Regions from separate parts of the Homo sapiens genome. Here region 1 is linked to region 2. Evidence: fine-mapped expression QTL. A gene starts in region 2. The other region holds a variant in brackets. All regions are shown on one strand. Distances are between the middles of the regions. Region 1 overlaps TRIM23 (tripartite motif containing 23). Region 2 holds the start of SGTB (small glutamine rich tetratricopeptide repeat co-chaperone beta).

Region 1 (5,496 bases), 120 kb before region 2:
GTTACTTTTATACTATATTTGTATTTACAATGAATGACATATCAAACACAGACAACCCCCAGTTTATAACTGTGACTTATCAAATTATCTACATGCAGCAATATCTACTGAAGCCTAATCAACCCCATTCCTACTCCTACGTGGTGAATGTATACCTGTAACAGCTCCTAGCCCTCTAAACCTCCACCAAGGTCCTTAGGACCTTGGGATCCATGTACCTTCCAGCTCTGTTCCACAACTACCCCCCACCCCACACCCTCAGCCAGGATCACCAATCCTCTATTCCTTCCAACTGTCCCACCAATACTCTGTTTCTTCTTTTTATCCCCATCCACATTTCAATCCCATAGTCATACAATCTTGCATTTTTTCTCTGAGATGCTGATATCTTAGAGCCAGAAAAGAGCCCACCACCATGACAGATCAGTATCAAATAAGACCCCAAGAACTTGGCTGTAAGCTAGGGTTTGTCTATTAAGGTAAAAACCAATATTCATACTTACCAATTGTTGGAATGGGCTGCATGAATTCATCCTGTTTTAACTTAAACAAGATAGTAGTTTTTCCAGCACCATCCAATCCTAACGTAACGACCCGAATTTCCATTTTTGGTCCAATGTGAACTCGATTATCCTACAATTTAAATATTTTTAAATATGTTTGACATGCAGTTAGAAAGTAATAGCATTTAGCACCTTTATTATTTCTACATCTCCTATTCATTCCTCAACCATTGCAATCTGAATTGTATTCCTCAAAATACTGAGTCTGATCTCAAGAAGATGAAATCCTTCCCCATGGCTAAATCTTGCCTTAGTAAAACTGACCACTTTGTCTTTGTATAACAGAATATACATACCCACTTAATTTTCTCAGATTTTCTAACTCAAATGAATCCTCTAAATCTTAAACATGTTTTTATGCTATACTAAAAAAATCACAATAAGGGTAAATCAATTAAAATGAAAAAGTGCTGCTCAATTCCCAGAAATTTCTACTATGAATCTGATGTATATCCCTCCAGACACTTTCCATGCACATACTGGCCAACATACACAAACAAAACAAATTTTTTTTTAAAAAAGTATTACCCACACATTGAAACTAATGTGTTTCACTCAACAGTATATTATGGAATCCTGTCAATACATATTGACCAACCTTTTTCTTTTAATGGCTTCTTTACATTTCATAAACCACAATTTAACTAAACCCCCAACTGATAGATTTTAGGTAATTTCTGATTTTATGATATTACAAATAATGCTATAATGAACATTTTTATATATTACTAGCTGCATGATTTCTCTGCTTCACTTCTTTCATCTCATAAAAGGAGGATTAAAATAGTACAAAATTTACATAGGATTCTTGAAAGGATTAATTTTTAAGAATACATATAAAAGTCCTTACAACAGTTCCCAAAATATATGTGTTATTTTTGCTTACTCCTTTGAGCACTCTTTGCTTGGATTTTATGATACAAACTTTTCCTGGTTTGGTTTTATCCCATTTTTGGATGTTCCTTCTAATTTTTCTTTAATCCAGCTCTTAAATGTTGGTATTCTTGAGGGTCTATATGAGGCCTCCTTCTCATTCTACATATTTTCATTCTCTTCATGAGCTTTAATTACCATGTATATTATGGCTCCAAATCTATACTTAAGTCCAGTTATACACCTCAGAAATAAAACAATATATGGAACAGAACTACTTCTGTGAGAACTCTAGAGAACAGTTAAGAAACTACAGCACCCAGGCCATAAAACCAAGAAGGCATTCCAGTGAAAGGGGTAATAAAATTTGGGGCATTCTGTGCACTCATCCCTGCCCTTCCCCATATCCAACATAGTGAGGATGAGGTGCAACCAGGAGGAAACTACAAAATACTAGCAAACTGAATTCAACAACACATTAGGCCGGGCGTGGTGGCTCATGCCTGTAATCCCAGCACTTCGGGAGGCCGAGGTTGGGGGTGGATCACCTGAGGTTAGGAGTTCGAGACCAGCCTGACCAACATAGAGAAACCCCGTCTCTACTAAAAATACAAAATTACCCAGGCATGGTGGCGCACGCCTGTAATCTCAGCTACAAGGAGGCTGAGGCAGAAGAATCGCTTGAACCCGGAAGGTGGAGAATGCAGTGAGCCGAGATCGCGCCATTGCACTCCAGCCTGGGCAACAAGAGCGAAACTCCGCCTCAAAAAAAAAAAAAACACATATTAAAGGGATTGTACGCCATGACCAAATGGGCTTTATAACTGGAAGGCAAGAATTATTCATCATCAATCAGCATAATACACAGAATGAGAGAAAAAAAGCACGTAATCATCTCAATAGTTGCAGAAAAAGCATTTAACAAAATTCAATACCCTTTCATAATAAAAACATTCAACAAACTAGGAGTAGCAGGAAACTGCCTCAGTTAACATACACCATATAAGAAATGCCCACAGCTAACATCATACTCAAAAAACTGAAAGCTTTTTCTCTAAGATAAAGAACAAGAAGATGCCCACAGAGCAATTAGGCAAGAAGAATAATAAAAGACATCCAAATTGTAAAGGAAGATGTAAAATTATATCTCTTCACAGATGACATGATCTTGTATGTAGAAAACCCTGAAGAGTCCACACAAAAAGACCTATTAGAATAAAGTCAACAAAGTTTCAGGATATAAAATCAACATGAAAATCAGTTGCATTTCTATACATTAATGATAAAAATCCCAAAAGGAAATTAAGGAAACAATTCTACTTAAAATAGCATCAAAATTATACTTTCAGGGATCATTTTTATAGTTTATGACTAAAGAAGTTTCTCTGAACATGTACAGAAAAAAAAGTTTAAGATACTTAGGAATAAACTCAACCAAGATGGTGAAAGACTTAAGATACTATGTTGGTGCAAAAGCAACTGCGGCTTTTGCCAGTACTTTTAATGGCAAAAACCACTATTACTTTTGCACCAACCTAATATGTAGGCGTACACCTAACCAAGATGGTGAAAGACTTGTACACTAAAAACTACAAATATTGCTAAAATAAATTAAGACATAAATAGACA[T/C]TCCATGTCCATGGATTGAAAGACATAAAATATTAAGATATGAATAACAGCCCAGGTAATTTATATAGATTCAATGCAATCCCTATCAAAATCCCAATCATGTTTTTTGTGGAGATAGAAAAAATTAAGCTAAAATTTATAAGGAAGCTCAAGTGACCCTGAATAGCCAAAACAATTTTGAAAAAGAAAAAAGTTGGAGGACTCACACTTCCTTACTTCAAAATATATTACAAAGCTAATGTATTGTTCTGTTTTTGCACTGCTATAAAGAAATACCTGAGACTGGGTAATTTATAAAGAAAAGTTTAATTGGCTCACAGTTCCACAGGCAGTACAGGAAGCATGATGCTGGCATCAGCTTGGCTTCAGGGAAAGCCTCAGGAAACTTACAATCATGGTGGAAAGCAAAGAGGGAGTGAGGCATTTCACATGGCAGGAGCAGGAGCAAGAGAGAGGGTGGGGGAGGTGCCACACACTTTTAAACGACCAGATCTCATGAGAACTCACCTATTATGGCAAAGACAGTACCAAGGGGGATGATACTAAACCATTCATGAGAAACTGCCCCCATGATCCAGTCACCTCCAACCAGGCCCCATTTCAACATTGGGGATTACAACTGGAAATGAGATTTGGGCAGGAACATAGATCCAAGCCATATCAGCTACAATAATGAAAACTATGTGGTACTGGCATAAAGATGAGACATACAAACCAACAGAACAGAAGAGAGAGCCCAGAAATAAACCCTCAGGAATAGGGTCACATGATCTTCAACAAGGGTGCAGGACCACTCAATGAAAAGACAGTCTCTTCAATAAATGATGCTGGGGAAACTGGATATCTACATGCAAAAGGATGTTATGTATCTTACACCACCTAAAAAAATTAACTCAAAATGGCCATAAACTTAAGACCCCAAACCATAAAACTCCTAGAAGAAAAAACAGAGGAAAAGCCTCATGACATTGCATTTGAGAGTGACTTCAGGGATACACGAAAAGCACAGTAAAAAAAAAAAAAAAAAAGCAAAAATAGACTACATCAAATTTACAATTTTTGTGCATAAAATGACAAAATCAACAGAGTGAAAAATTGACCTATGAAATGGGAGAAAATATTTGAAAGTCACAGATCTGATAGGGAATTAATATCCAGAATATACAAAGAACTCCTACAATTCAACAACAAAAATAGTCAACCCAATCAAAAAGTGAGCGAAGGACAGAAATAGACATATTCAAGGCAATATACAGATGGCCAACAATTATATGAAAAGATGGTTAATGGCACTAGTCATCAGAGATATGGATATCAAAACAAATAAGGTATCATTTCAAACCAATCAGGATGGCTACTATCCAAAAACAGAAAATAACAAGTGTTGGTGAAAATGTGGAGAAACTGCACCCTTGTGCACCACTGGTGGAACTGTAATATGGTGCAACCATTATGGAAAACAGTATGGGGATTCCTCAAAAAATTAAAAACAGAACTACTATATGATCTACCAACTTCACTTCTGGGTATATATCCAAAAGACCATGAAAGCAGGGTCTTGAAGAGATATTTGTACACTCACGTACACAGCAGCACTATTCCCAGTAAACCAAGAGGTGGAAGCTACCCAAGTTTCCATCAACAGATGAATGAACAAACAAAATGTGGTATACACATTGTATTAGTCCATTTTCATGCTGCTGATAAAGACATACCCAAGACTGGGAAGAAAAAGAGGTTTAATTAGACTTACAGTTCCACATGGCTGGGGAAGCCTCAGAATCATGACAGGAGGCAAAAAGCACTTCTTACATGGCAGCAGCAAGAGAAAAATGAGGAAGAAGCAAAAGCGGAAACCCCTGATAAACCCATCAGATCTCGTGAGACTTAATCACTATCACAAGAATAGCACAGGAAAGACCAGCTCCCATGATTCAATTACCTCACCCTGGGTCCCTCCCTAACACATGGGAATTCTGAGAGATACAATTCAAGTTGAGATTTGGGTGGGGGCACACCCAAAATCTCAAGCATATCATTCTGCCCCTCGCCCCTCCAAACCCTGCCCTTACAGCAAACTTCTGCCTAGGCTTCCAGGTGTTTCCATACATCTTCTGAAATCTAAGCAGAGGTTCCCAAACCTCTATTCTTGACTTCTGTGCACCCACAGGCTCAACACCACATGGAAGCTGCCAAGGCTTGGGGATTCCACCCTCTGAAGCCACAGCCCGAGCTCTACATTGGCCCCTTTCAGCCACAGCTGGAGCAGCTGGGACTCAGGGCATCAAGTCCCCAGGCTGCACACAGCATGGGGACCCTGGGCCCAGCCCATGAAACCACTTTTTCCTCCTGGACCTCCAGGCCTGTGATGGGAGGGGCTGCCATGAAGGTCTCTGACATGGCCTAGAGACATTTTCCCCTTGGTCTTAGG
Region 2 (5,249 bases):
CCCACATCCTGTTCAACTTTACAGATTACCGAATCCAATATTAAAGTTAACGTAAAACACAGGTGAAATGCTCCCATTTCAAGTTCCAAATTAGGCACTGGTCAGATCTCACTAGTGGTATAATTATTAGACTTTTACATAGTGCTATTAAAATGACTCAGGTATTTTTATATATTATTTCTAAACTGGATGCTTTCCTATTAGGAAATGGAGACAACAAGATCTTCAGAGTATTAACCAGGATTTAAATCTCAGCTTTATCACATATCAGCTGTGTTATCTGCTTACGCTATTTGGTTTCATTTTCTTTTTCTTTTTTTTTTTTTTTTTTTGAGATAGGGTCTCGCTCATGGCCCAGGCTGGAGTGCAGTGGTGTGATCTCAGCTCACTGCAACCTCCACCTCCTGGGTTTAAGCCACCCTCCTATCTCAGCCTCCTGAGTAGCTGGGACTACAGGCAAGTGCCACCACACCTGGCTACTTTTTGTATTTTTAGTAGAGACAGGGTTTTGCCATGTTGCCCAGCCTGGTCTTGAACTCCTGACCTCAAATGACCTACCTGCCTCGGCCTCCCAAAGTGCTGGGATTACAGGCATGAGCCACCAAGCCTGGCCCTGGTTTTATTTTCTCACTTGTTAAATGGGGATAATACTAACATAACAGTTGCTGTGAAGAAAAAATTGCCTATAATATGAACAGCATACTTCTGACATATAGTATTTGTTCAATAAATGAACAATAGTCCTCTTAATTTGTTGTTAAAACAAACAAAACAAGCTTCAGAAAATGGAAATACGATAACCTTATAGTCAGGCCTCTCCTCTTGAAAGATCAAAAAAAATTCTGATTATGTTACAATAGATCATCAAGTTGGGCTTACAGCTATTTTAGTCTTCGTTTATAATTATAATATAAATGAACACAAAGAGCAGATGCATACCTTCCAAACTTTCTTGTTCATCCGAGGTGTAAGTGTCCATCTGACTTTGTTCCCGTAAGAAACGAATAACTGCATAAACCAGGTGCTTGATAGATGACATTTTAGAAGCTTAAACACTTTTCCTTGATAAGAAAAATGAAAACACTGAACTAAGTTATTTTAAAGAATCAGTCAGGAAAGTCATAAATTACAAAGATGATATGGGTTATAAAGTGTATTAAAGGTAAAAACAAAACACAAAACTGTATGACCTTTCATCTTTTCTCTTTGTAAAGAGTCAGGAGAGCACAAAGTATTGTGAAGGTAATTTATTACATATTTTCATTAATACCCAGTGGTATACGAGTATGTTAAATCTTGGAATAAGTAAAAATGTCTTCAAAACATGTACAGCATAAGCTTAGACTGTCACTGCATATCTCACCATACAGAAATCCCCTAAAGGCCTCAGTACTAAGTTAAGAGGCATTTCATACTGCTGACTAAAAGCTGATGTATACCAAGCATCTTCCTCTTTTTCATGGGATCTAAAAAAAGTATTAATAATGTACACTCTACCCACTTTTGTAGGTTGAGAGTTATTTGATGAGGAAACACATTCGCGAAAGGTTATTCAAGTGGTGAGTGTCGTTCTTAATAAAAATGGCATTTCTATTTAATCAGCAGACATGTCAGGAAATCGCTGCCCAAGTCGATGGATACTACAAGCCGACCGGCGCTCCCTGCAGAGGCTGTGCTCTCGTGGACAAGCTGGAAGCTCCCGGTCATGTTCATTCACATGGAATACTATCGCATCCAAACAGTGGCGCAGGGCCAGGCGGCATTCATGGCTGATTTCCACCAAATCGCATCATCCATCTGCTCCCCAGGTTCCCTAATTCAAAGCCAGGGTGTGGTACCCGCCGCTATAATGTTTATTATTTGTGTAGTTATTTTAAAGGCGATGTCAGCCTCTAGGCCACGGGGTCATAAGCACTAAATAAGGCCCCAGGGCAGAAGGTAAAAACAGAATGGGGGGAAAAGGGGTGAGAAGAGGGAAATAGGCTTCTCCCCCTTCCTCTCCCCAGAGCGCATCGAGCTCCCCCTCCCTTCCGTCCTCCCTCAGGTACCCGGCCTCGCCTCGGCCCTGCCCGGTGTGCAGCGGGTGCCGGTGCGGGCCCCGGTCCGGAGCGGCGGGAGGCGCACCCTTGCCAGACAGAAGCCCCTTACCAAGCAGGAGGACGCGAGACGACTGCTGCTGGCCCGCGGGGTTCCGTAGGCAGGCCCGCCCGACCCCTGGTCCTCGGGGCTGGAGCCCGGCTCGGGATCGCAGCACTGGTCGCGGCGGCGCAAACTTCCCCGGCCCCTAGGCCGTAGACCCCAGAACCCACCAGGCTGTGCTCTCTCTCAGGCGGCAGGGTCTGGCCAGCACCGCCCCTGGGGCGGGGCCGGACGCGAGGGCTGGGGCGGGGCCAGACACGCGAGCTGGGGCGGGGCACGGCGCGGGGCGGGGCTGGTAGGCGCCGGCGTGGAGCTGCCGCACGTGGGAGGGCGCTGGCCAGGCAGCCACTGTGGCCTCTGCGGCTAGGCCGGCTCGAGACTCCCGGGCGCCCAGGCGCTGCCGCCCGCCTCGCCGCCCCACGCCGAAGGACCACGCGCCCGCCGCCGCCAGCCTCTCAGCGCTCCCATGATCGCCCGGTGCCTTTTGGCTGTGCGAAGCCTCCGCAGGTACCTCCAGCGCGCGGGTTAACCTTGGCCGTGGGCAGGGCGGGGTCTTTCGCCGTGTGGTGCCTGGAGCCCGGACCCACCCCTTCCCGACCGCGCCTCTCCGACGCTCCCGGGACGCACCCTCCCCGCGGCTTGCAAGGTGGACCCCTGGGGGACACCTGGCGCGGCCACCTGGGGCCACCTTTCCCGCCTCCGCTCCCTCGGGAGGACGTCCATTCCTCTTTGTTTGGGACTGCCTCAGCCGCAGTCAGCGAGGCTGGTCACAGACGCGGCCCAAAATGAATGCAAATAGTTTGGATAAGAAAATCATTTCACGTTCAATCCCAATGCAGAACTACAGACCTGTCATTAAAAGTGCCGCAGCTGTGGACTCAGAACAATTGTGTTTGCTCCTCGCGCCCATTATTAGCATTCCAATCGTTTAACATCCACCCGAGATGAAACCTCTTTGGTGGTGTTGCTTGTTTCCGTCCATGCTCTCTGACTTCCTTTTTTATTTTCCTCCTCCCCATAAAACAAACATTCTGCCTCTTGCCGGTGCAAATTGACTTGGCCCAAAATGGAGAAAATGATCGCTTGGACACGGCTTTGGGCAGCCTGAGCTGCTGTTTTGGATTGCTTCCTAGCCCTCTAACCACACCCCACTGCAACAGACCAGTAGCAAGATGGTGAGGGAATTAAATTCTTTGCACGGATGCGCTGGTTTTCGGAAACAATGCCGCCACCATCCCCGTTTCCAAATCTGCCCAGAACTGTAAATCCAAATGAAGATTCAACAGAATAAAGAAAATGTGTGCTTCTTGCTAGCTATCAACAAAACTACTTTGTAACATGTCAGCATTTAAGCTTTCTACAGTTCCCTTTTGCACATTGCCACTCGTCTGTGTGGATGGAGCTTTGTGTTGCTCAGTCCGTAGAGTTAGGGAGCAGGCAGGCGACAGTGGTTAATTACAAAGAGTTAATGTGGTGATTGGTGACCATATTTCAGCCTGTCGTTTTTTGCTAGTCTCCAGGCTGCAATCGATATAGCTGTCAAATGAAGTTATACCAAGAAATGAAGACTTCACATAATGCAGGGGTGAGAGGAGGGAATAAATCTTCATATAAGAGCAATTCTCGGCCGGGCGCTGTGGCTCATGCCTGTAATCCCAGCACTTTGGGAGGCCGAGGCGGGTGGATCACGAGGTCAGGAGATCGAGACCATCCTGGCTAACACGGTGAAACCCCGTCTCTACTAAAAAATACAAAAAATTAGCCGGGCGTGGTGGCGGGCGCCTGTAGTCCCAGCTACTCGGGAGGCTGAGGCAGGAGAATGGCATGAACCCGGGAGGCGAAGCTTGCAGTGAGCCGAGATCGCACCACTGTACTCTAGCCTGGGCGACAGAGCAAGACTCCGTCTCAAAAAAAAAAAAAAAAAAAAAAGAACAATTCTCAAACTTTTTATTCTCAGGACCCCTTTACCTTTCAAAAATTACCGTGGACCTAAGAGCTTCTGTTTGTGTGGTATATCTGTCTATATTTACCATATTAGACATTAAAGCTGGAAAAAAATTAAAGTAGTTGTTAATTTACAAAACTAATAAATAGGCTAGGTGCATAAATAGTGATTTTAATGAAAAATAACTATTTTCCAAACCAACCCCCCCGCCCCCCAATCAGTGAGAAGATTAACATTGTGGGGTTTTTTCCCTTTTTTTTAAAATTGTGGTAAGATATAACAAAATTTACCATTTTGATAATTTTTAAGTGTACAATTGAGAGGTACAGCCAACACCACTGTCCATCTCCAGAACTTGTCATCATCCCAAACTGAAACCCTGTACCTATTACACAATAACTGCCCATTACTTCCTCCCCCAATCCCTGGTTAACCATTATTTTTTCTCTATGAATTTGAGTATTTCAGGTCCCTTATATAAGTGGAATTAGACAATATTTGTCCTTTTGCGTCTGGTTTATTTAGTATAGCGTTTTTAAGGTTTATTCGTTTTGAAGCATGTGTCGGGATTTCCTTTTTAAAACTGAATAATATTTCATTGTATGTATATACCACATTTTGTTTATCCATTTGTCAGTGGACATTTGGGTTGCTTCCACCTTTTGGCTATTGTGAATACTACTACTATGATCATTAATGTGCACATGTCTGTTTGAATCCCTGCTTTTAATTCTTTGGGATACTGTATGTACCTAGAAGTGAAAATTGCTGAGTCATAGGATAGTACTATGTTTAGTTTTTGAAACCATACTGTTTTCTTCAGTGGCTGTACCATTTTTACATTCCCATTGGCAGTACCTAAGGATTCCAATTTCTCCACATCATCATCAGCACTTATTTCCTGGTTTTGATAACAGTTATCCTAGGAGTGGCATTGTTTCTTTTTTTTTTCTTTTTTTTTTTTTTTGAGACAGAGTCTCTCTCTGTCGCCCAGGCTGGAATGCAGTGGCGCTATCTCGGCTCACTGCAAGCGCCGCCTCCCGGGTTCACGCCATTCCCCTGCCTCAGCCTCCCAAGTAGCTGGGACTACAGGCGCCCGCAACCACGCCCGGCTAATTTTTTTTTTTTATTTTTAGTAGAGACGGGGTTTCATCCTGTTAGCCAG

The links. PIP is the estimated chance that this variant, and not a neighbour inherited with it, causes the effect. A credible set is the group of variants that fine-mapping cannot tell apart.
Region 1: its variant is the best candidate, but not a certain one, in a credible set for the expression of SGTB in whole blood (INTERVAL, PIP 0.85).

What each region holds. Positions count from the first base shown.
Region 1 is chr5:65,596,548-65,602,043 of GRCh38, forward strand. It overlaps TRIM23 (tripartite motif containing 23), which reads right to left. Exons shown (of 11, transcript NM_001656.4): 8 at 504-633. Among named protein-coding and RNA genes, the nearest start is that of TRIM23, 25 kb to the right of the region's middle. The variant T/C (reference allele first, on the strand shown) is at 3,066.
Region 2 is chr5:65,719,769-65,725,017 of GRCh38, forward strand. It overlaps SGTB (small glutamine rich tetratricopeptide repeat co-chaperone beta), which reads right to left and starts at 2,341. Exons shown (of 11, transcript NM_019072.3): 1 at 2,149-2,341; 2 at 940-1,061. The coding sequence starts at 1,039. NLN (neurolysin) reads left to right here and starts at 2,437. Exons shown (of 13, transcript NM_020726.5): 1 at 2,437-2,646. The coding sequence starts at 2,606. RefSeq lists silencers at 1,912-1,961, 2,022-2,071, 2,142-2,751 and enhancers at 3,028-3,849, 3,622-3,701.